Homo sapiens: one gene and its partners. The protein of the gene in region 1 interacts with the protein of each later gene in a pairwise test. Each region holds a gene or a part of one and is shown in the gene's direction. Other genes may lie near its edges.

Region 1 (3,500 bases):
ACATCTGGACCAAGGTGAAAGACTGAACCTGTCCTGCTCCATCCCAGGAGCACCTCCAGCCAACTTCACCATCCAGAAGGAAGATACGATTGTGTCACAGACTCAAGATTTCACCAAGATAGCCTCAAAGTCGGACAGTGGGACGTATATCTGCACTGCAGGTATTGACAAAGTGGTCAAGAAAAGCAACACAGTCCAGATAGTCGTATGTGGTGAGTATATTGTTGCTGACTCAGAGGACATCCAGGGTTGAATGGGAGAAAGGAAATTTATCTGCAGCTGCCGCCCTCTCCGGTCTGAGCAGACTCAGGCAGGGTAAGAACTAGAGGGAGAGAAGTGCGAAATCAAAGGCCAAAGAAACAAGGAGGTATTCCTGCTCAGAACACTGATTCACTGATGATGATGTGGCCTCTGACTTGCTAAGATTCTGGCAAGATTCTGCCTCCTGGAGCAAGTACCCACCCAAAAGTTCAGGAAGGAAACACTACTTAGTCAATGTTAAACTTTTCTTTTTTTTTTTTTTGAGACGTGTCGCCCAGGCTAGAGTGCAGTGGCACGATAGCTCACTGCAACCTCTGCCTCCTAGGTTCAAGTGATCTCCTGCCTCAGCCTCCCAAGTAGCTGGGATTACAGGTGCCCACCACCATGTCTGCCTAATTTTTGTATTTTTATTTTTATTACTTTTATTTATTTATTTATTTATTTTTTTGAGATGCAGTCTCGCTCTGTCACCCAGGCTGGAGTGCAGTGGCACAATCTGGGCTCACTGCAAGCTCCGCCTCCTGGGTTCACGCCATTCTCCTGCCTCAGCCTCCCAAGTAGCTGGGACTACAGGCACCCGCAACCACGCCCGGATAATATTTTTTTGTATTTTTAGTAGAGATGGGGTTTCACCGTGTTAGCCAGGATGGTCTCCATCTCCTGACCTCGTGATCTGCCTGCCTCAGCCTCCCAAAGTCCTGGGATTACAGGCCTGAGCCACCACACCCGGCCAAGAATATCAAAATTCCATTTTTTAAATCTGTATCCTGGCTAACCCAAAAGGGTAAGACTTCCAGTGGACAGAATGTAGGTATTTGACCACCAGGAGCTGGGCTTCTCAGGCCTGAATGTGCATGCAAGACCTGGTTAAAATACAGGTTATGATTCAGTATTTTAGGCCCAGATGGGGCCAGGTTCTGCATCTCTAACTAGCATTTTGGTGATGTGGATGCTGTTGGTCTCTGGACCACACTTTGGGTGGCGAGATTCTGGTTGATTATAGAACTCCAGTCAAGTTGTCACTGTCACTATATTATTCAGTCACGATCCTTTCATTTAACCTGTGGCTGTGTTTTATCCAGCTAAGATTTTATTATAGCTTCAACTGAACCAGGATTTTAGCCTATTTTTAATGCTCTAACCACCTAACTCAAAAGGCAGGAATGCAAGAGACAAATGTGTGTTATAACGTTTTATTTTATTTTTTGTTCTTGGGAGGAGGAAATCTCATTGTATAAGGTTTAAATAAACTAATGCCTAAATAATGACCTAATATAATTCTTATCTGTTAAGAGGCTGAAGCACTAAGAAGACTTTTTTTATCTTTTTTTTTTTTTTTTTTTTTTGAGATGGAGTTTTGCTCTTGTTACCCAGGCTGGAGTGCAATGACATGATCTCGGCTCACTGCAACCTCTGCCTCCCGGGTTCAAGCGATTCTCCTGCCTCAGCCTCCCGAGTAGCTAGGATTACAGGCATGTGCCACCTTGCCCAGCTAATTTTGTATTTTCAGTAGAGACGGGGTTTCTCTACATTGGTCAGGCTGGTCTTAAAGTCCTGACCTCAGGTGATCTGCCCACCTCGGCCTCCCAAAGTGCTGGGATTACAGGCATGAGCCACCGTGACTGGCTGAGAATAATTTAAAAACATATATATTGGCTGGACCTGGTGGCTCACACCTGTAATCCCAACAATTTGGCAGGCCAAGGTGGGTGGATCACCTGAGGTCAGGAGTTTGAGGCCAGCCTGGCCAACATGGTGAAACCCCCTCTCTACTAAAAATACAAAAGTTAGCCGGGTGTGGTGGCACATGCCTGTAATCCCAGCTACTCGGGAGGCTGAGGCAGGAGAATCCCTTGGACCCAGGAGGTGGAGGTTGTGGTCAGCTGAGATTGCGCCATTGCACTCCAGCCTGGGTGACAGAGCAAGACTCGGTCTCAGAACACACACACACACACACACACACACACACATATATGCTCAGCCAGGTGTGGTGGCTCATACTTATAATCCCAGCACTTTGGGCAGCTGATGTGGGAGGATCACTTGAGTCCAGGAGTTCAAGACCAGCCTGAGCACATAGTGAGACCCTGTCTCTACAAAAAATAAAGAATTAGCCAGGTGTGGTGTGCACCTATAGTCCCAGCTACTCGGGAGGCTGAGGTAGGAGGATTGCTTGATTCTGGGAGGTTGTAGTGAGCTGTCATCGCACCAGTGCACTCCAGCCTGGGTAATAGAGTGAGACCCTGTCTCAAATACACACACACACACACACACACACACACACATTTTGTTGGCTACTTGTTGTACTTTTTCTATGTTTTCTGTGTCTTTGCTCAACACAAGAAAAGTATATTATGTGTGCATGTGCGTGTGAGATATGGTAAAATATGAACATGTATTTCTGGGGATGTAATGTTTTCCTTGAATTTCTGTCATTCTCTGTTTTGCTTATTGTACTTCTCTTTCCCTTTCCCTTCTCACCACACACACACACACACACACACACACACACACACAGCCTGTCAGTCTCATAGGTGTCCTATAAAGGTAAATAAGGCAGGCAGGCATTTGAAATTACAGCAGGGATAGAAAGCAAAGCTCAGGCTTTGGAGGAGGAACCTCTTGTGCTGGATGCTTTGCTTTTACCTTCAGTGCCTTTTGGATTGTTTCTCCCTCTGTTCTAGAAATGCTCTCCCAGCCCAGGATTTCTTATGATGCCCAGTTTGAGGTCATAAAAGGACAGACCATCGAAGTCCGTTGCGAATCGATCAGTGGAACTTTGCCTATTTCTTACCAACTTTTAAAAACAAGTAAAGTTTTGGAGAATAGTACCAAGAACTCAAATGATCCTGCGGTATTCAAAGACAACCCCACTGAAGACGTCGAATACCAGTGTGTTGCAGATAATTGCCATTCCCATGCCAAAATGTTAAGTGAGGTTCTGAGGGTGAAGGTGATAGGTAAGTTGCTGTGCTGTGAGAAGAAATCATGTGGGCTTGGGGCATTCTTTCACGCCCAGGGACTGTGGGAACAATAAGAGAAGTAGGGGGCCAGGTGCGGTGGCTCATGCCTGTAATCCCAGCACTTTAGGAGGCCAAGGCCGGTGAATCATTGAGGCCAGGAGTTCAAGACCAGCCTGGCCAACATGGTGAAACCCCATCTCTACTAAAAATACAAAAATTAGCTGGGCATGGTGGCGTGCGCCTATAATCCCAGCCACTCGGGAGGCTGAGGCAGGA
Region 2 (3,500 bases), on another chromosome or scaffold:
TCCCCACCCCTACTTTGTCTCCATGGAGAATGTCCTTAATTCTTCAAAATCGGCTCAGCTGCTACCTTCGCTGTGAAGCCTGTGGAGCCCTTCCGCTCCTCCCCAGGCAGAGTTAGCCCACCCTCCCTCTGCCACATCTGTGCAAAGTCTACATCTCTTACTCGCTGTCTCCCACTGCACTGGGCTTCTCCGACGTAGGCACAGTGATTATTTTTTCAGGATTGTTCATCTGCGTACCTCCGGCTCCCAGCTTCTCTCTTGTCTTAATTAGGTCTTTGCTTATATACAGAAACCCACTCAAACCAGCTTCAGTAATAAAGAAGGGCTTATTACAAGGACAGAAGGGATTCCCTGGAACTAAGGGGAAGGAAAACCATTAGCTTCAGGAAGGCGGGACCTGGAGGGCCAAGGGAACTTGAAGCAGCCATTCTCTGCACCCTGCCTTTCTGTATCCACAGACTGGATATCTCTGCCTTTTCAGGCACCAAGCCACCTATAGTTCCTGTATTGTGTCCCTTGGTTTCAGCCACATGGAGAGAGAGAACTTGGGGCTTGGCAGATCCAATCCCAAACTCCCAGGAGAGGATCTGATTGGCTCAGAGTGAGGCAGGTGCCCACCCTGGTCCAGTCATCTGTAGCCTACTGGGAAGGATCAAAGAGACATGCAAACAGGGTTCTCAGTGCCCCGCTCAGAGAAGGGGGATCTTCGTTAGCTTCCAAACACATCTCCTGGAATTCTTAGAGTGCCGATGTGGGTGCAGGCAGTTGGGCCTGAGCCCCAAACTTCCATCTGGACAGCAGCTGGAGAAAAAAGGCCTGGAATTGTGACTTAAAGGAGAGTCTTTTCCTGGGCAGCAGTGCTCAGGACAGGCTCTGAAGAACCTGTCAAATGTCATTCAGAGGCCTGAGGAGAGAGAGGGAGAAGAAAGCCTGAATTTTCTCACCTTGCTTTGGAGTGAGGAGAGAGGGAAGAGGAAGCCAGGAACAGGCAGAAGAGTTTTTCCCCACGAAAATCTTCATCCTCCAAGATGTAACTCTTTTCATCAGTGAAAAACCAAACCATGTCTACCTCACCTTCCCCCTGTCACTCATTCTTGACCTGTATTGATTCTGTTCTTTGTGCTTCCCTGGTAATAAACATTTTTTTTAAGCACTTACTCTGTGCCAGACATTGTGTTCACACATTTCATTTAATCTTCACTTCTATAAGATGGGTACTATTATTATTCCCATTTTATTTTATTTTTTTAAAACATATAAATTTTATTTTATTTTAGAGACAAGGTCTCACTTTGTTGCCCAGGCTGGAGTGCAGTGACTTGAACACAGCTCACTGCAGTCTCAACTTCCTAGGCTCAAATGATCCTCCCAAGAAGTTGGGACTACAGGTGCACACCACCATGCCTGGCTAATTTTTTTTTTTTTTTTTTTTTTTTGAGACATTGTCACATTCTGTCACCCAGGCTGGAGTGCAATGGCTGGGTCACGGCTCACTGCAGCTTTGAACTCCTGGGCTCAGGTAATCCTCCCACCTCAGCCTCCCTGGTAGCTAGGACCACAGGCTCATGCCACCATGCCCAGCTCAGTTTTGTATTTTTTTGTAGAGACAGGGTTTCACCCTGTTGCCCAGATTGGTCTCCAACTCCTGGGCTCAAGCAATCCTCCCATCTTGGCCTCTGAAAGTGCTGGGATTACAGGTGTGATTCACGACACCCAGTCTGTCATCTCATTTTACAGACAAGGAAACTGCAGTTTAGGCATTTACAGGCTAGATTTTAAAGCTCTTCACCTCTCTTAATCTCGGTGATTTGCTGATTTGTCTGCTTGCTGTTTGGGATTGTGAAGGTCTCACGGGCAGATAGCAGGTTACCATCCTGCCTCTTTCCCCACTGCCCAGCAAGGGCTGCCAACTGTGGAACAGATGGATGCAGGTAGAGTAGAAAAGGTGTCTGGGTGGACGTCAAGTCTCTGACGTGTGGATCTCCCCTGTGTAGCTAGCTCTGTGACTATGGACACGTCTCATCCTTTCTGAGCCTCACATTTCTCATTCAGAAACGGGGAAGATAATTCCTGCTCTGAGGCTCATATTAGATGGTGGCCGTTATGACAATTTGTGAATAGGAAAGGACCAAGGAATTTCTAAAAGATTGTTATTACCAGAATAGGCTGTAGCAACAGGGCACTAGCGGGGCACTGTGCCCGAACTCCTGCAAGAGGTGGACAAGCCTAGAGCTTCCCAATATGTGGAGTGGGACCAGGGATGACTTTCAGTGCCATTTCTTAACATTAGCTCACGTAGTGAGAAAGTTGGTTCCCTCTCAACGATATCAAGTCCAAGATTGTCCAAGGGAGAACATGTCAGTGTAGTTTCTAGTGTGTCTTTTTTTTTTTTTTTTTTTGAGACGGAGTTTCGCTCTTGTTGCCCAGGCTGGAGTGCAATGGCGCAATCTCAGCTCACCACAACCTCTGCCTCCTGGGTTCAAGAGATTCTCCTGCCACAGCTTCCCGAGTAGCTGGGATTACAGGCATGCACCACCACGCCCGGCTAATTTTGTATATTTAGTGGAGACGGAGTTTCTCCATGTTGGTCAGGCTGTTCATGAACTCCCGACCTCAGTTGATCCACCTGCCTTGGCCTCCCAAAGTGCTAGGATTACAGGCGTGAGCCACCGCGCCCGGCCTCTAATGTGTCTTTAACAACTTTCCAACACTGGTTGCCCTCCCTTTTTAACAGAGAGCTCTCAGGCTAGGCTCAGAACATTGCCTGGCAACTCCATATAGCTAAAACATAATATCATAACTGTTTTTACTGTGTTTGTTTTATTGTCATTTTCTATTTATTAAAAGTGATACTGGCTTTCCATTTATAGTAATAACATGGTTTCTATTGAAAATAGTTGCATTAAAGTTAAAAGTGTCAATTTATTTTTATCTGTTTGTTTATTTATCGAGACTAGATCTCACTCTGTCGCTCAGGCTGGAGTGTAGAGGCCTGTTCTTGGCTCACCTCAGCCTTGACCTCCTGGACTCAAGTGATCCTCCCACCTCAGCCTCCCAAATAGCTGGGACTATGGGTGTGAGCCACTGCCCCTAGCCAGAGTGTCAATTTAAAGAAAATAAGTAATAAACAGTACAAGAGTCTGTAGATTTGTTTTGTTTGTTTGTTTGTTTTTTGAGACGGAGTCTCTGTCGCCCAGGCTGGAGTGCAGTGGCACGATCTTAGTTCACTGCAGCTTCTGCCTCCTGGGTTCAAGCGATTCTCCTATCTCAGCCTCCCAAGTAGCTGGGATTACAGGTGCGTGCCACCATGCCCGGCTAATTTTTGTATTTTTAGTTTGACCATCCAGACGGGGTTTGACCATATCGGCCAGGCTGGCCTTGAACTCCTGACCTCAAGTGATCTGCCTGCCTGAGACTCCCAAAGTATTGGGATTACAGGCGTGAGCCACCGTGCCCAGCCTAGGAGTCTGTAGATTTGGCAGAAATCATTGAGGTGACAC
Region 3 (3,500 bases), on another chromosome or scaffold:
TTTAGAGACTTTTAATTCCAGTACAGCCTACTTTTCTACAGTGGCAGATGATCTTCACTTGCCCAGCTTTGCAATATATGCCGTATTTATAATGCTTTTTTATTGATATTTTAGGTCAGGTTTTCTTTATTTTCTTTTTTCTTTTCTTTTTTTTTTTTTCCAAGATAGGGTCTCACTCTGTTGCCCAGGCTGGAGAGGTGGTGAGATCATGGCTCACTGCAGCATCAAACTCCTAAGCTCAAGTTATCTTCCCACAGGTGCATACCACCCTGCTCAGCTAAAGGTTTTTTTAGAGATGGGGTCTTGCTATGTTGCCCAGGCTGGTCTCAAACTCCTGGCTTCAAGTGATCCTCCCACCTCAGTCTCCCAGGGCGCTGGGATTACTGTCAGGCATGAGCCATCTCGCCAGGCCCAGGTTTTCTCATTTTTATCTTCATTTTTACATATGAGGAACATTTTTTTTTTTTTTTGAGATGGAGTCTCGCTCTGTCGCCCAGGCTGGAGTGCAGTGGCACGATCTCTGCTCACTGCAACCTTCGCCTCCCGGGTTCAAGAGAGTCTCCTGCCTCAGCCTCCTGAGTAGCTGGGACTACAGGTGTGCGCCACCACGCCCAGCTAATTTTTAGGAGAGACGGGGTTTCACCATGTTCGTCAGGCTGGTCTTGAACTCCTAACCTCATGGTCCGCCCGCCTCGGCCTCCCACAGTGCTGGGATTACAGGCGTGAGCCACCGCACCTGGCCTAGGAACCTTAGACTCAGAGACGGTTAAGTGAATTTGTCCTAGGAGAGAGCTTTTAAGTGGCAGAACTGGGATTTGAAACCAGCTCTTCAGACTCCTAGTCCAGTATTTTTTTTTTTTTTTCCTGTGGAGGGCGATGAGAGCAGTGACAGAGAGGTGGACAGAGATCCTCCCCTGGTAAATTCTGGAGTAAAATGCTTTAGGACCAAGTTGCTGAATTGAACTGATACATCTCCATTAAAACCAGCAGCCTAAACTTTTTTGTTCTCTTGGCAAGAAATTCCACTTTCTTTCAGCAACGTGTATTTTTGTTTTGTCAGATAGGAATTTTGCAAGATCATAGCCTGTTGCAGCTAGAAGGGACATCTAGTTAAACTCCTTCGTGTAAAATGTTGTGAAAACTGAAACCTAGAGAGAGAAAGCAACTTGTAAAAGCTGCCACAGCAAATTAATGGTGGAGCTAGGTCTAGAACCCGGATCAGTTTGACTGTCTGGCGTTCTTTCTGCTACTGGGCTGTCTTTTGATAGAGCAGGAAAGAGAAGAGGAATCGTGTGGTACACTAGAAAAGAGCCCTGCACTGTGAGTCATTTTATTTCCTCATCTTTAAATTGAGGGGATTACACTCTTGAGAACCCTTCCAACTCTAAATGTCTTTATATTGAGGTTTAATAGTGTGCTTGTATTGATAAGCTTTTGTTCTTGGTAAATCTTTCGTGATTTTTTTTAATCTTTTCGTTTAACTTAATGGTATTTGGTACATAGTTCAAGACCCATAAATTTGAAATTAAGTATTTACTGGGTAAATTATATATGAGATGAATGCCCCTGCTAACTCATGTGGTTTATACTTACACATACTAAAGGCTGGCACTGAGAACATGTTGTAAAAATAAATGTAACATTTTCAGCACTCTTTTTTTTAGTGGCAGCCAAAATATTTTTGAGGCCTTGGAAGAAGGATAGAATCATAACATTTTTAGAGTAGGAAGGGACTGGAGATCATTTTAGCCCAGCCTTCCCTTTTAACTGAAAGTGAAATTTAGGGTCTGAGAGGGGAAGTGACACATTGCTAATAAGGGCAGACTTGGAACTAGAGCCCAGGTCTCTTGATTCCTCACTTATACCATGCTACCATGTCTGCGGAAGAAGGGAAAGTATTGCTGGCTATTCCTGCCATAGGTTTCTGGCACTTACCCTATTAGCTGGGCTTTTAAGATGGTTTACTTGACTGTTTCTTCATACCTTGCCTATCAGAGGTCTTGAACTATTTTAGAATCCTAAGTTTTGCTTACGAGTTTTTTCCAAGTGAAAGTGAAAAACAATGGCAAAATAGCTTGTCTAAGAACAGTGATTATTTGTATTATTTTATTCTTAGGCATTTAGTTAGTATTAACTGCAATCTACCATATTCAGATAGGAATAATGATAAAATCTTAAGTCATGGGAACTGAGACCAAACTGTCCTGAATAATTGTTAGGTCTGAAAAACAAAAAGGTGTGTAGCTGCCTTTGTTGAAAACTCAGCTTCTCACTTTACTTAGGTGTCAGAAACATTTCTCTCTGAATTGAAAATTGATACAAGTTTTAATTTAAAAAATACCTGTGCAATATTTATTACTTTAGGGAAGTTTCCTTAAAAATGGCTGTTTGTTGATGAGTTGACATTTGATCACAAATTTGATTACTGAAGGCTTTAAGGAGTGATAGAAGTATATTTACAAATGCTGTTTTATCGCACTCATGTAACATCATATTGAAGTGAGAAAAAACAACCCTCTACATATTAGTTAGTAAATTCAAGTTCTAAATTTAGTGACATCCGGCCGGGCACCATGACTCACGCCTGTAATCTCAGCAGTTTGGGAGGCTGAGGCGGGTGGATCACCTGAGGTCAGGAGTTCGAGACCAGCCTGGCCAACGTGGTCAAACCCCATCTCTACTAAAAATACAAAAATTAGCCGAGCATGGTAGCACACACCCAGCTACTTGGGAGGCTGAGGCAGGAGAATCGCTTGAACCCGGGAGGCGGAGGTTACAGTGAGCTGTGGTCATGCCACTGCACTCCAGCCTGGGCAACAGAGCAAGACTCCGTCTCAAAAATAAATAAATAAACAATTTATATTTAGTGACATCTGACTGTCAGTTGGTAACTCATGGGGGTAGGATAGTCCATAGTGGCATGGCAATTTGGGGGCTCAAGTTGAATCTGTATAAACTCCTGTAAATTGGAAACTGTATTCTCTTCTTGTGATAATCTACTTCATAAGATAGGACAGATAAAATTTGTGTTGTTTGTTTTTTGTTTTTTGTTTTTTTTTTTGAGACAGGGTCTCACTCTGTCACCCAGGCTAGAGTGCAATGGTGCAATCTCAGCTCACTGCAGCCTCGACCTCCCCAGGCTCAGGTGATCCTCCCACCTCAGCCTCCCAAGTAGCTGGGACCACATATGTGCACCACCACGCCCAGCTAATTTATATATATATATATATATATATATATATATATATTTTTTTTTTTTTTTTTTTTTGTAGAGATGGGGTTTCACCATGTTGCCCAGGCTAGTCTCAAACTCCTGGGCTCAACTGATCCACCCAACCTCGACCTCCCAAAGTGCTGAGATTACAGGTATGCACCACTGCACCTGTCCCTTGATTTTAAAAAATATTAAAAACCTAAATAGTTTTAGGATGTGAAGTATAGTGGTGGTCTTAAACAGAAAATAATTTCTAATTATTGGTATTTTAGACTTACTGTCTAAC
Region 4 (3,500 bases), on another chromosome or scaffold:
TGCCATTAACAGACAGCTGTATTTACCAAGCCGGAGTCATGGAGCTTTGAGGACCCTAACAGATCCCCAAGTCCAGCACCTTGATTTTATATTCAGGAAACCTGGGTCCCAAGAGGGTGAAGGCTGGTTCAGAGGAAAGCCAGGAAGGCAAGCCCAGTTTCCTAAGTTCTGAAGGGGCTTTGGGGGGCATCTAGGAGACTCAGAGCCCTGCAGGGCCTGCAAGGTAGTCATAGGGGGGAGTATTGTCAATTTCTTTTAAAAAACCTAATGGAAACTCTACATTTACCATGATACTGGATGATACTGACACACAAGCCAAATAACATAGAGGGGTCTGTGCCCTCTATGTGGAAAGCGAGTGACTTGCTGTGTCTGCTCTTCTCTCAGCGTTCAGTAGCCCTGGTTGTTGATTACAGTCACTGCTGAAAATGGAGAAACATTTTATTTAATACTATGCCTGGGTCTCACACCTATAATCCTAGCACTTTGGGAGGCCCAGGCAGGAGAATCACTTGAACCCAGGAGTTTAAGACCAGCCTGGGCAACATAGTGAGACTCTTGTCTCTACAGATTTTTATTTTTATTTTTTTTAATTAGGCCGGGTATGTGGCTCACACCCGTAATCCCAGCACTTTGGGAGGCCGAGGTGGGCAGATCGCTTGAGCCCAGGAGTTTGAGACCAGCCTGGGCAACATGGTGAAACTCCGTCTCTACAAAAAATACAAAAATTAGCCGGTTGTGGTGGCAAGCAACTATAGTCCCAGCTACTCAGGAGGCTGAGGCAGGAGGATCGCTTGAGCCGAGGAGTTCGAGGCTGCAGTGAGCTATGATCGATCGCACCACTGCAATCGAGCCTGGGTGACAGAGCGAGACCCTGTCTCAAAAATAATAATAAAAATTAAAAATAAATTTAAAAATGCAAAATATATACTATGTTGCGTAGATAAAATGGGAAACATAATAGAAGTGGTCCTTCATGGGGGTGAAGTTCAGAGTTGCTGAGCATTTGGCAGATGAGTAAAGGGTACCCAGAAAATGGGAAGTGATCCCAGGTTACAGATGGAGCCAGCACCTGGCACCCAGTCTATTGGCCATCCCCTGCAATGTGACTCCGAAGTGATCATACTTGAAAAGTCAACGAGACAATAGGGTACCCTCATAAAAACTTTAGGTCTAGATTTATTTTCCTTAAGGAAGTCACACTTTCAGTATTTGCTACAAGCAAACTGAAGCCATTGTTTGAGTCAGTGATGATTTATATAGCAGTCTGGTGATTGCCTTGTAAACCTTTTGGAAAATTCCTTTGGTATCCCTGGTTTGGGTTTTGTTACTAAACAAAGCAACACAGGCCATGGGGGAAATTATCTGGCATCTGTCTAAAATTAAAAGACCTTTTTGGTGTTTATTACATTGTAAAGATATCAAAGTCTTGTCCTTAAGATAAAAGAAGGTCAAGGAGGCCTTGCATTTCTGGAAAGTGCCAGAGATCCTTAGTCCAAAATCAAAATCACCACGAACTTCTTGCTAAGCTCTGGGGGCCTCCCACTCAGGCATCTGCCCAGGCCTTTCGGAACTTGGTTCTGTTGTCAGGATGCACATATGCAGGCCAGATGTGCACTGCTGGTGAACCCTTCATATCAGCAGAATGTGTTTTAATGCTGCCGAAAGCGTGGCGCCTGGGGGCCACCTCAAGGCCTGTTTGTCTGTTGCTTGATGCAGTCTGCGCCAGGACCCTCCCCTTCCCTGTGGTGCTGCGACCCTTATAATGAGCCTTCTTGCTTTACTCATAGGTGGGAAACTACCTCCGTATGTTCCGAGGTTCTCTGTACAAGAGATACCCCTCACTCTGGAGGCGACTAGCCACTGTGGAAGAGAGGAAGAAAATAGTTGCATCGTCACATGGTAAAAAAACAAAACCTAACACTAAGGGTGCGTCTTCACGAGGGTTTGTAAACCTGTTTCAAAACCACTCGCTTATGTCATGAAGATAAAACGTTTTCACTCCAGAGTGTCTTCACTGCAGCCTTGGCCTTAGTCGGGCAGGGAGCATCCCGGGGTGGGCCGCCCTGTGAGCACTCCAGGCAAGGAAGTGGCTCCAGGGAGCCATTGGTGGTCCACTGTCAGTTATTTCCAGCAGGGCCATTGGGTATGTGAGCGGGCCGGGGCCAGGACACTAGCAGGTGCTGTGAAGACATGTTGGTCTCAAAACGTTTTAGGAATGCTGCGATGCTCTGCCATCTGTCGTGGGTGTGTCGCCATAATCATCTTCCATGCAGCCCAAGTGGCGGGTGGTGGTCCCAGCTCCCACTCCCCTCTGGGGCTTTCACTGCTTGCTTCCTGGAGCACATCCATCCCATAGCACTTCATCCTGGCAGCCAGTGTGCTAGAGCCCATGTGCATGTCCCTGCTCCTGGTGGCCTGCGTGTGCCTGGGGCTTGCTAGGTACACTAGTGAAACTAGTGGGCTTTGGGTCACGGCAGCTCTGTGCAGGGTGAAAGGGTGCTCTTCAGACACTCTGGGGGCTCTGTGGGAGACACTCCCATGGAGACATTTGGGTGTGGACACAGCATGTCCTTGGGCAGGTGGCAAAACTGCTTCCCACGTGGCAATGGCGCCTTGTAGAGAGCTGCCCTGGGCCTGGGTGTGTCTGTGAGCATGTGCGCGATGCTTCGTAGTCTGCCCTGTTTGTTTGTGTCTGTAGGTGCTGCTGTGGTTTTGTCCACTGCGGGAAAGTAGTGGTTCTTTTAATGCAGGAGCCGGAGCTTCTTTTTGATCTGCTGCTATGACATTTCCACTCACTTGCTTAAAACAGTTTCCTTTTTGTTCCCCCTCCTCCCCTAGCAGAGCATCAGTCGCTAACACAGTGAGTCCCCAGCTTTGCTTCCCCCTCCGCAAGTCCCTGGGCTAAGTCTTGGGAGATACCTTCCCCATAAGCGATTGATTTCTCCAGGAGAAGCCAGACTGGGCCCACAGACAGGTAGCTCTTGACGGAGATTCCCCGGAAGAGCTAGGGGTCGAGCTGCCTAGAATCTGTCCTGCTTCCCAGGCAGCACGTGTGGACCGGCTCGGGGATAGAAATTCGTGTTTGGTGTGAAGCAGCTCTTTCCAACTCTCTGGGCTCTTGTTTTAAAAGAAAAGTATTCTTCATCTTCCATTCCATCTCCCCACCTTGCATCGTGTTGTGGATTGTGGTGGTGTCAGACCTCTTCCCACTGGGGTGTTACTCTGGGAGCTTTCTTTTCCCCTGAGTGAGGACCAAGAGAATATGTTCTGGAGTCGAGTGTCCCCGCTGGTCGTGCTGTATTGTAGTTGCTGGTGCTGCCCTGAGCACTTCCCTCTGCCCCGAGCCAGTGCTCCTGGGGCAGATTAGTCCAAATCAGTCCCATTGGAGGCTCTACCCAGCAGGACTTGTAAGTAAAGCACTCAGTCCAGATTGCCCTTTTGGAAGAGGCCAGCATTCAGCAGTAGTAAGTTTGACACCTTGCTTTTCCCACCTCCCG
Region 5 (3,500 bases), on another chromosome or scaffold:
TCAAATGTGCCACTATCACTCCTGATGAGAAGAGGGTTGAGGAGTTCAAGTTGAAACAAATGTGGAAATCACCAAATGGCACCATACGAAATATTCTGGGTGGCACGGTCTTCAGAGAAGCCATTATCTGCAAAAATATCCCCCGGCTTGTGAGTGGATGGGTAAAACCTATCATCATAGGTCGTCATGCTTATGGGGATCAAGTAAGTCATGTTGGCAATAATGTGATTTTGCATGTTTTTTTTTTCATGGCCCAGAAATTTCCAACTTGTATGTGTTTTATTCTTATCTTTTGGTATCTACACCCATTAAGCAAGGTATGAAATTGAGAAATGCATATATGTATAACTGTATATTTACACACATTTAGCTAAAGGCAAATACAAATAAACTTACAAATAGGCGTCCATCTCAACACATTTTTTTTCAAACATGCTGTTTTTTTTCCTTTATCCTTTTATTCAGTTATACCATATGATATTGCCATTTTTATGTTGGTAATTTCATATGGTTCAACCAGATCTGTGGTTTTCAACACTGGCTGCACAATAGGATCCCCTTACAAGTTTTTTTGGTGGTTTTGTTTTGCTTTGCTTGATTTGTTTCTTTGTTTTAGTTTCAATGCTTGAGTACCACCCTACACAAATTAAAATCTGAATTCCATGGGGTTCAGGCATTTTAAAGCTCCCCAGGTGAATCTAATGTGCAAACTTGAGAACCACCAAAGATTGTATTAAACATGATCCCATCATGCATAAAAGAAAAAACTGGCTGGGTACTATGGTTCACACCTGTAATCCTAGCACTTTGGAGGCCAATTTGGAAGCACTGCTTGAGGCCAGGAGTTTGAGACTAGCCTGGACAACATAGCAGAACCCTGTCTCTACAAAAATGAAAAGTATTTCAATAATTATGTCAATTGTTCATGGAAGAGCCAGTTTTGTTTATTCATATACAAAGTGAGTAGGCGAAGCTGAGTGGGGTGGCATGTGCCTATAGTCCCAGCTACTTGGAAGGCTGAGGCCTGAGGATCCCTTAAGCCTAGGAGTTCAAGGTTACAGCTATGAGCTATGATCACACCACTGCCTACGCAACAGAGCAAGACCCTGTCTCGAAAAAGAAAAAGAAAAAAAAAACTGACTCGGTAGTTGAAAGCAGCCTTACTAAAGCATTCCTTCCTGCCTGGAAAAAAAGTATTGCTTCTTTACTTCTGTACCAGTACACTTGTTGCCAAATTAAGCAAAAAAACTGCCAAGTAAACAAAATCAAAGTTCAGTGTTGAAACTGAGGTTTCAGACTTTCACAGAAAGTAGTTTATGTCTTAAAAGGACCTTAAAAACAGGAATCTCTCATGCTGAAATCCAGAGGTTTTAATGTAGCCATCATTGAAAACAGTGTGTTGAGGGTAAACAGTTTAGTCCTTGAGGGGTCAGTTAACTTTGTTCCACTCTGTGGCTAAAACTATCCTTTCATCCTGGCCAAAGCCTTCAGAAATAGCTCCCAGGGGCCCAAGCAAGGGAAGGTAGATGGCAGTGGTGCAAACTCGCTAATCTTGTAAAAATCACCCTAGATTCTTTCCAGTTCAGTCGTGCCTTTTTTCTGCGTATATCCTTTTTGTTTTTTGTTTTTGAGACAGAGTCTCGCTCTGTCGCCCAGGCTGGAGTGCAGTGGTGTGATCTTGGCTCACTGCAACCTCTGCCTCCCGGGTTCAAGCAATTCTCCTGCCTCAGCCTCTTGAGTAGCTGGGATTACAGGCACATGCTACCATGCCCGGCTAATTTTTGTGTTTTTAGTAGAGACGGGGTTTCACCATGTTGGTCAGGCTGGTCTCAAACTCCTGACCTTGTGATCCGCCCGCCTCCGCCTCCGCCTCCCAAAGTGCTGGGATTACAGGCATGCCACCATGCCCGGCCTTCCTCTTTTTTTTTTTTTTTTTAATTATTTTGGCATCAGTCATTTGTAAAAATGGCCATTCTATTTATTAAAGTCCAGAAAGAGAATTTCAAACCTCAGGTTGATTCATGGACTGTTTAAATATACATAAACCTATACAAAGCATTTATGGTGCTTTGGTACCTCAGTTTCTCCCTTTTCAGAAATAGTAATAAATTACCACCCATATTTACTTTATGGATTTTATATGTCAAAAATGTTCTGTGTAAAGTAGGTGTTTAATCTTTATTGTTACTTACTGCTCTTTTACCAGTTGTTATTAGTATTTCTCTACACTTATAGATGTGGCCGGCACCTGCTGGTACCTAACTCTGCAAGTATCTGATTCAATTCATTGAAGAAGATACAATGCAGCAAAGACTTATGGATGTCTAGTATATGCCAGGCATATTATTCCACTGAGTAGCTGAGGCCCATGAGGGAGGTGCCTGTCCTTGAACAGCCCTTTCCTAAAAATCATCATCATCCCATTGTAGCTGCTCCCAGAATGATTTGATTGCTCCATATGAACAAGTCCTATAACACTAGTAACAATGATACCATGAGAGACCGAGCCCCGATGGCCTAAGTAAGGACGAGACCTCAAGTCCTTTGACCCTGGATGCATTATTTCTACTATATCATAGTTCCCTCCTTGTAAGACTGATGTAAGAATCAAATGAGATTATGCAAGTTAAGCATTTAAAGCATCTGGCATAGAGTAAGGACAAAGCATTAGCTACCTCAGTACTACAATTAGTATTGTTATCATCACCCTCTAGGGAGACTTCCCTGACTTCCTTCCATGGTCACCTCTTTTCCTCTGTCATCCTATAGTTTTTTTTTTTTTGGGGGGGGGGTCTAATACCCTCTTTTGGCATTTGAAAGCTCTTATATTGCTTTTCACTTATATATGTCTTTATAGGGTTGTAAACTTCCTAAAGGAAAGTGGCTTATGTTATTCTCTGTCCTCTTCAAATCAGTGCTCAGAAAACTTTCCTATACCTCGTATAGGCACCTAATAAATATTTACTGATTTAGGGGAATGTCTGGACCTCTTCATCCCCATCTCCTAAAAAAAAAAAAAAAAAAAGAAGTTTGACATACTGCCCTATTTGTCTAGGTGTCTTCTAGGTCTATATTATATGAATATTCTCCTTACAATTCCTGCTAGGGTATTTTTTTTTTCTTTATACCTTTTTCCCCTCTACACAGTACAGAGCAACTGATTTTGTTGTTCCTGGGCCTGGAAAAGTAGAGATAACCTACACACCAAGTGACGGAACCCAAAAGGTGACATACCTGGTACATAACTTTGAAGGTATGTATGACTGTAGCATAAGCTTCTTTTTTTTTTAAACAAATGATTTAGATAATATTTTTATTGCTTTTTTTGTTAGTTATGTGACTGCCTAAAAATATAATCTGAATCTACAGTGTTTTTGCAAAACCCGAAACTTGACATAAAGAAGTAATTTGCTTCCATACCTTCCTGTGGCATGAATAAAGGCACAAAAGGGTTACCCACTTAATTGGAAATGCCTTTAGGCAAAGACAAGGAGATGATT
Region 6 (4,199 bases), on another chromosome or scaffold:
CACACCTATTAGGGCTAAAATTCTAAGGATGGGGCACGGAAATCTGTGTTTCATCAAGCCCTCTAAGTGATTTAGATACATGTAAAGTTCATCGAGAATCAGAGCATCACACCTGAACTGCACATTAGAATCACTTGGGTCACTTTCCACAGAAATGCTGTGGCCCCATGCCCAGAGATATTAATTTAATTGGACTGGGATAAAGCCCTGGTATCAGTACTTTCTCAAGTCTCAGGTGATTACGATGTGATTTTACTGTGCAGTCAGGGTTGAGGCTACTTCTGTAGAACAGCTGAGGCTGGGGGCTAGGACAAGGGCTGGAAGGATCTTACAGGTGGTGTGCAAAAGCCCAGAGGTCAGAGAAAGCCTGATGTAGTGTGTTTGGGGACCGGACAAGGCTACATACAACAAAACCCCATGATTTAAAATAAGGTTTGTAGATATAAGTTCATTTGTTCATTGTAGTACTTCTTAAACTTTAACAAGCATAGAAATCATCTGAGGGTCTCATAGAAACACACAGATTCTGATTTGGTAAGTAGGAGCAGGGGACTGAGGTTCTGCATTTCTATAAGATCAGCGATGCTGATGTTGCCGGTCTGCAGACTGCACCTCACCTTAGCAAGGTTCTATTGCCCCAGCTTTCCCTGAGGGTACATGTCAGTGGATGGGAACTGCAGAAGGATGTATCTATGCATTAGTCCCAGGGCTGACATAAGGGCACCTAGTTGGGGTGAACTGTGGATGCCCATTGTTGTGTGGACATGTTTTCATGGTAGGGAGGAAAGACGCAGCCTCGCCCAACCTCCTAGCCTGCTCTTCTGATTATTATCCATCAAGGTCGTACTGCTTTTAGCTCAGCAGTAACTCCCCTCTTTCTCTCCTCGTCCCTCCCACGCCAATCTAGCTGAGTGCCTCCCCCGGCCAGGCCAGCCGACCAGATCATTAAGTGACCGCCGGAGTGCTCCGTAACGCGCCAGCCAGCCAGTGAGGCGCTGGGCGAGGCGGGGGCTCTCCTGGGACCCGTCTCCCTCTTCCCACCTTCCCCCGCTGACCGCGGCGGTGCCTGCGGCAGAGCCTCCCTCTGCAGCAGCCCCTTGCACTTGGCTCGCACTTCTGGGCGCTGTCCATGGTTGCAGCAGCTTTCGGCGCGCCACGTCAGGAGGCCGCAGCACGGCCCTGCGATTGGCGGAGGAGCCCCTCGCCATACCCCTGCACCTCCGCCCACGCGCCACGGCGCCCGAGGCGCGTGCCAGAGAGCGTGCCCGGCGCGCCCCGGGGCTCCTGGGCGGCACACCCACTTTCCTTATTAGGGCAGAGTCGGGTGCCCAGAGCCGGCGGCCGGGCGAGGGGTGGGGCGGGGAGCCCTGGGCGAGACGGTCGAGGGCGCAAGCACAGCCTCCGCCGCAGCCGCCTCAGAGCGGCAGGAGGGAGCAGTCGGTCGCTGCGCCCCGGCGGGCCACTTTCCCGGGACCCCGCTCGTCTTCCTTGGGCCGAGATTTTCCACTGCGCCCCTCCGAGTACCCGGGTTCCAAACCCCTAGCCACGACATGGAAGAATTTTTGCAACGCGCCAAATCTAAACTGGTAAGTTGAGTGAGCAAAGCTGTGTGTGTGCGCGCGCGCGTATGCTAATGGAAAGGTGGAGAGGAAAAGGTGTTGCAGCAGAGGAGGAAGAAACAACTTTGCCACGGAGTTATCAGGGTGTGCGGGTTGTCTCCTGGAAGAAATCTCAGGAACTCTGGCTCTTAAAGCTGGCAATCTGTCTCCAGAATCCTCCACCGCAACCAGACGAGGTGCAGAGCTGAAGGAGGTTGTGGCCTGGCTGAAGTTGGGTCGCTTCAGTCCAGCTTCGGTCCCTAAATCAGCAGTTTGCTCCTGAAAGCTAAGGGATAAATGGGTGTGGTCTTCCTTGAGATAAAGAGCCCAGCCTTCTGCAGATGCATTACGTGTAAGTGTAAAAGGAAAAAAAGAGACCCTTAGAACTGTACTTCAGCTGGAGGTGACAAAAGTGAGGAAGTCAGGGTGCTGGGTAGCAAGGACATGTGTGGTACTGGAGAATCCACAGAATAGAGCTTGCTCCACTGCAGGAGTTAGGGATATTCTAGTGTGTCTTGTGTCTCGCTAATTCCTGTTCACATCTGTAAATTGGGGCGGAGGCAGAAGGGGAAAGCTCTAACTGTTGGTGTTCTGGAGTTTACCAGATCATCGTTCTCCCGGGAGCAGACCTGTGTGTTAGCCCATGTTTACCATATCACTGTCCAAACAGTGAATGGGCAACTCCACTGTGTATGTTAACAGTTGCTACACATTCTGAAACAACAGACTCTAGCAGTTTCTTAATTCCAAACTGTTTTGGCTCTCCAGCACAGCAGTAATAAACATAATGGAAATGTTTCTGTTTTGGCAGAAAAAAAAAGAAAAGCCTGTACTCATTTAGAAGCAATATCTTTAAAGAACTGTAAAAGCACCTTTTACAGGCCTGGCATAGAAAGAAATGCATAATTTATGATGCCTTTAACCTTTAAGCCTTCATAGAAGCCAAAATGTAAAGTCTGCATTAAGGTAATGTTTTAATCACAAGGCAGGATATTTGCAGGGTTATTACTGTAACTCATTTACCCTCGCACAACAAAGGGAGTGCAGGAAGGGAGGGCCCAAAGATGCCTGAACCACCATTCAGAGTGCAGACGGAAGTGTGATCCTTACAATGGTCTAACTGTAACTATCTTGTAAAAGACCATTAAAGTTGATAAGTGCTTATATAAAACTTTCTACCTGAAACCTCCCAGAGAGTTGAACGTTTGTGGAGATTTCCGAGTTGAGGAAGTTTGTGATCATCTCTGTGTTTATTGACCCTTTTATAGTTTTACTAGAGCACATGGATGAAAATACTAATTTCAGAAACTCAAGTAAGTATTTGGCATTTCTGATAGTATAAGTACATGTTCTGTTCTTTACCTAGTAATGAAGGAGAAATGTTCAAAAATGAAAGACAATTTTGGCAACTGTGCGTGTGTGTGTATGAAAATGGTAATCAATGACAAACACAGAGTTCTGGGCTGTATCTGTTTTTCACTCCCATAACATTTATTTATCAATATTTTCACAATAAACATTTAGACTGTGGGGTCTGATATGAGCAAGAGGTTTGTCTCAATTCTGAGGAGCAGTTGCTGGAATGGAAGTTTCCCTATTTCCGAGTAATGAGTTGAAAGTAATCTGTAATTTATTTACCCTTCATTAGACGAGCAATTGCTCTACATCATTAAAAAAAAAAGGACAGGAAAGAGAAGCGGTTGTTTGAAATATTGTTACCAGTTTCATGTCTTAGCCAGAACAATTACTGCTAATTTTATCGTTTCTTGGAATAAGCTTCTTCTAGAAATCATGATTAACCTTTCACATCCAGCCACAGCAAAGGTGTGTTGGTCACTTTTAGTGTCATATTTTCCTGAGAAGTTACATTTTCTAGGTAATAAGATTTTTACTTAATGTATGACACTCAAATATAGTAGTAGATAACATTCTCCTTTAGAGGGTAGATAACCTTTTTCTTGGAGAAAAAGAATTAAGTCAATGTCATTCACTTGTGGGAAATTTATTTATAATAAAAAGGTAAGATTTGGCCGGGTGTGGTGGCTCACGCCTGTAATCCCAGCACTTTGGGAGGCTGAGGCGGGTGGATCACCTGAGGTCAGGAGTTCGAAACCAGCCTGGCCAACATGGTGAAACCTCATCTCTACTAAAAGTACAAAAGTTAGCCAGGCATGGTGGCGTGTGCCTGTAATCCCAGCTACTAGGGGGGCAGAGGCAGGAGAATCACTTGAACCTCGGAGGCGGAGGTTGCAGTGAGTCGAGATTGTGCCACTGCACTCCAGCCTGGGCAACAGAGCGAGACTCAGTCTCAAAAATAAAATAAAATAAAATAAAATAGTAAGATTTTTAAAAATTCAGCCAATCCTTTGGAAAACATTTTAAGGTGAAGAAATTTACCATGCTGATTTTTACTTAAGCCTTATTAGACCAGAATTAGAATGTAGGAGCTATGTTTTAAATGTTTTTCTTTAGAAGTTTAGCTATATGATACCTAAACAAACAAACAAAAAAGCCTAATTACTAGTTTGGTTTTTTTTTTTCCTATTTGGCTTAATTGCTTTGTTATTCTGTGGGCATTATATATATTTTTTAATGGTTTGA
Region 7 (3,500 bases), on another chromosome or scaffold:
GTCTCGGCCGGGCAGAGGCGCTCCTCACATCCCAGATGGGGCGGCGGGGCAGAGGCGCTCCCCACATCTCAGACAATGGGCGGCCGGGCAGAGACGCTCCTCACTTCCTAGATGTGATGGCGGCTGGGAAGAGACGCTCCTCACTTCCTAGATGGGATGGCGGCCGGGCGGAGACGCTCCTCACTTTCCAGACTGGGCAGCCAGGCAGAGGGGCTCCTCACATCCCAGACGATGGGCGGCCAGGCAGAGACACTCCTCACTTCCCAGACAGGGTGGCGGCCGGGCAGAGGCTGCAATCTCGGCACTTTGGGAGGCCAGGGCAGGCGGCTGGGAGGTGTAGGTTGTAGTGAGCCGAGATCACGCCACTGCACTCCAGCCTGGGCACCATTGAGCACTCGACAAGAACTTTTAAGAAAAATCCTGTTGGAATTTTGAGAATTTCCTGAGGATTCTAAAAGGTACCTGTGAGGCCAAGAGAGTATCTTCATCTGTTTTCTTTATTTTTAAAGATATTTTTGAGCCTCACTTTTTGTAGGTGAAGGTTATGTGGAAGGAAGACAGTAGGGGAGATAGGAGTAAATAATTTGAAATATACATATGTGCCTCAGTGCCCATAAATAAGCCCTCCTTTCTTTTCACTTAATGACTATCTAATGTTCTGTACTGGCAAATAGCTTTCCCTGCATATGTTGTTCAGTAAGTAATAAATATACAAGATTGGAAACTGCTTTTTTAAGAGTATATACAGATAGGGAACTTTTTTGCTATAATTTTATAATGTAAAAGCTCCTCATGGTTTTTCAGCTCCTTGCCCTTGTTCTTGTTCTGGGTGAATTTGTATTGCTAGAAGTGTGTATAATTTATCACACTGTGAATGTTTAGCCAGTCTCCAAGCTGAACTTACGCTGTTATCAAAGATAGGTATGTGAGGTGGATGGATCATGAGGTCAAGAGATCGAGACCAGTCTGGCCAACATGGTGAAACCCCATCTCTACTAAAAATAAAAAAATTACCTGGGTATGGTGGTGCGCATGCCTGTAGTCCCAGCTACTCGGGAGGCTGAGGCAGTAGAATCTCTTGAACCTGGGAGGTGGAGGTTGGAGCGAGCCGAGATCGCGCCACTGCACTCCAGCCTGGGCGACAGAGCGAGACTCCGTCTCAAAAAAAAAAAAAAAGAAAGAAAGGTGTGTGAGATGCTCTCATATTTTATAAAATAACAGAAGAGCATATGAATTCGCCTCATGTTGCTCTGAGGTAGAAAGAAAAGTGAGAGTGCGTTAGAAACCAAGGGAAAAAAATGGAAAATAATTATTTACTTTTTCTAAGGCTGAAATGATAGATTTGACCATTGTATAACACGGTGACTATTGTTAATAACAATGTGTTGTATTATTGCAAACTGCTGAGAGCAAATTTTAAGTTTCTTACCACAGAAAAATAAGTATTTGAGGTAATGTACATGTTAATTAGCTCAATTTAACCACTGTACATTGTGTACGTATTTCAAAACTTCATGTTGTACATGATAAAAATACATCATTTTTGTTAATTAAAAAATGTTCATTTATTATAAGGCATATCAACTATAAATGTACAATAAATAATAAAAGACTTATGCCAGGCAAGTTAAAATTTTGGAATAAGATAGTCACAGTTAATTTGTACTTTAAACTTTTATGTATTATCAAGCTGAATCTGAAGTACTAAATTTTAGCAAAACTACAATTTTGCTACATATTGAGTACATTTGGATCTTTAAATTCATGTCATAAGTAAAGCTAATTCTGTATTTTATTTGTGTTGACTAGCTAATTGATTACCAGTTTAAAAAGAAAATTTAGAATAGGTATTCTTTAGGCCTGCACTATCCAGTAAGGTAGCCAGCAGCTCCATGTGGCTGTTGAGCACTTGAAGTTTTGCTAATCCAAACTCAAATGTGCTGTTAAGTGTAAAATACACTCTGGATGTTGCAGACTATGTAAACTATCTCATTAATAATTTTACTTTTTAAATGTGGCTACTAGAAAATGTAAAAGTACAAATATGGTTTGTGTTACATTTTTATTGGACACCATTGGTCTAGGCTATCCCATAGTCCAGGCAGTATGTGATGAGGGCCTGAACTAGGAATGTTAAGACATTGAGAATAGAGAGACAGATTTGGATATATTTTGAGAAAAGTCTGTAGCACTTCGTAATTTTATATATGGTTAAGGGGATCTCAGAGATAACTATAGGATTTTTAATTTGGATAATAAGAAGATGGTAATATCATTAACCAAGAAAGGAAATGTGAGAAGGAGAGGGGGAACAGATTGTAACCATTGTTATTTTACTGACACATATCTTCACGAATTCGTTGAAACTTGATGTAATGTTATAAGATAGTGATGTTTAAGAGTATTCTCCCCTGTTCCCTCGTATCTACCCACCCTTCTCCAGGATTTGAACTCAGAGGATCAAAAAGCCTTCAGTGTTGAACATACAAGCTGCAATGAGGAAGAAAATTTCGCAAATATGAAAAAGAAGGCCAAAATAGGCATTCATCACAAAAATAGTCCCCCCAAAGTCACTGTTCCAACTAGTGGAAATACTATAGAGTCTCCTCTTCATGAAAACATCTCTAATTCAACATCATTTAAAGATGAGAAAATCATGGAGACTGATAGTGAACCAGAGGAAGGTGAAATTACAGACTCTCAGACTGAGGATAGTTATGACGAAGCCATTACCAGTGAAGGCAATGTAACTGCAGAAGATAGTGAGGATGAAGGTGAGTAAATAATCATTATTTAAGTAAATAGCCCAGTCTGGTAACTATAAAAGAGCAAAACCATTAAAAATGTTAGTGAGTTGTAGTATATCTGCCAGAAAGTAAACATTATTTTAATGATGTTATTGAAAATGTTGTGGGTTGCCACTTGGTTATTCTTAGAGAGTAGGATGTGAATAAATGACTAATACTTAGACCTTCAGAAGGTTTCATTGTATTGAATGGCATAGTCAGTAGAATACAAAGCCAGGTTACCTGGATTCTAATCTTAAAATATAGATTAAGGCTGTTTTAGTGGGTTAGATATTTGTAGTCTACTTTTGTAACTGAGAGAGAAAAACAAGTTGTCTTTAAAAAGTATACATTATGAATTCAGCTACATGGATATTATGGTAAATCTAATTTTTTTTTACTTGAATATATAAAGACATACTTTTAAAACACAGGATTTCATATTACAGTTGGCCTTCTGTATCCATGGGTTCTACTTTAGTGGATTCAAGCAACCTCAGATCAAAAATATTCAGGGAAAAAAATGGATAGCTACATCTGTACTGAACATGTACACACTTTTTTTCTTGTTATTGTCCCCTAAATATGGTGTACCTATTTATATAGCATTTACATTGTATTAGGTGTAAGTAATCTAGAGATGATTTAAGTTATACAGAAGGATGCACATAAGTTATATGCAAATACGATACAATTTATATAAGGACTTGAACA

The links.
Region 2: the proteins of PECAM1 (region 1) and RIMS3 interact in binary tests that used the Homo sapiens proteins (3 or more experiments, as listed by UniProt).
Region 3: the proteins of PECAM1 (region 1) and WDR44 interact in binary tests that used the Homo sapiens proteins (3 or more experiments, as listed by UniProt).
Region 4: the proteins of PECAM1 (region 1) and SMARCB1 interact in binary tests that used the Homo sapiens proteins (3 or more experiments, as listed by UniProt).
Region 5: the proteins of PECAM1 (region 1) and IDH1 interact in binary tests that used the Homo sapiens proteins (3 or more experiments, as listed by UniProt).
Region 6: the proteins of PECAM1 (region 1) and PRUNE2 interact in binary tests that used the Homo sapiens proteins (3 or more experiments, as listed by UniProt).
Region 7: the proteins of PECAM1 (region 1) and AGGF1 interact in binary tests that used the Homo sapiens proteins (3 or more experiments, as listed by UniProt).

The regions. Positions count from the first base shown.
Region 1 is NC_000017.11:64,359,861-64,363,360, reverse strand, and holds part of PECAM1 (platelet endothelial cell adhesion molecule precursor), read left to right. Parts: coding exon 1-212; intron 213-2,945; coding exon 2,946-3,221; intron 3,222-3,500. UniProt on the Homo sapiens protein: Cell adhesion molecule which is required for leukocyte transendothelial migration (TEM) under most inflammatory conditions.
Region 2 is NC_000001.11:40,655,683-40,659,182, reverse strand, and holds part of RIMS3 (regulating synaptic membrane exocytosis protein 3), read left to right. Parts: exon of another isoform or gene 1-1,150; intron 1,151-3,500. UniProt on the Homo sapiens protein: Regulates synaptic membrane exocytosis.
Region 3 is NC_000023.11:118,349,106-118,352,605, forward strand, and holds part of WDR44 (WD repeat-containing protein 44), read left to right. Parts: intron 1-3,500. UniProt on the Homo sapiens protein: Downstream effector for Rab11 which regulates Rab11 intracellular membrane trafficking functions such as endocytic recycling, intracellular ciliogenesis and protein export.
Region 4 is NC_000022.11:23,789,966-23,793,465, forward strand, and holds part of SMARCB1 (SWI/SNF-related matrix-associated actin-dependent regulator of chromatin subfamily B member 1), read left to right. Parts: intron 1-1,790; coding exon 1,791-1,929; intron 1,930-3,500.
Region 5 is NC_000002.12:208,245,072-208,248,571, reverse strand, and holds part of IDH1 (isocitrate dehydrogenase [NADP] cytoplasmic), read left to right. Parts: coding exon 1-203; intron 204-3,147; coding exon 3,148-3,253; intron 3,254-3,500. UniProt on the Homo sapiens protein: Catalyzes the NADP(+)-dependent oxidative decarboxylation of isocitrate (D-threo-isocitrate) to 2-ketoglutarate (2-oxoglutarate), which is required by other enzymes such as the phytanoyl-CoA dioxygenase.
Region 6 is NC_000009.12:76,903,315-76,907,513, reverse strand, and holds the start of PRUNE2 (protein prune homolog 2), read left to right. Parts: upstream 1-1,399; 5' UTR 1,400-1,550; coding exon 1,551-1,586; intron 1,587-4,199. UniProt on the Homo sapiens protein: May play an important role in regulating differentiation, survival and aggressiveness of the tumor cells.
Region 7 is NC_000005.10:77,043,904-77,047,403, forward strand, and holds part of AGGF1 (angiogenic factor with G patch and FHA domains 1), read left to right. Parts: intron 1-2,443; coding exon 2,444-2,774; intron 2,775-3,500. UniProt on the Homo sapiens protein: Promotes angiogenesis and the proliferation of endothelial cells. Able to bind to endothelial cells and promote cell proliferation, suggesting that it may act in an autocrine fashion.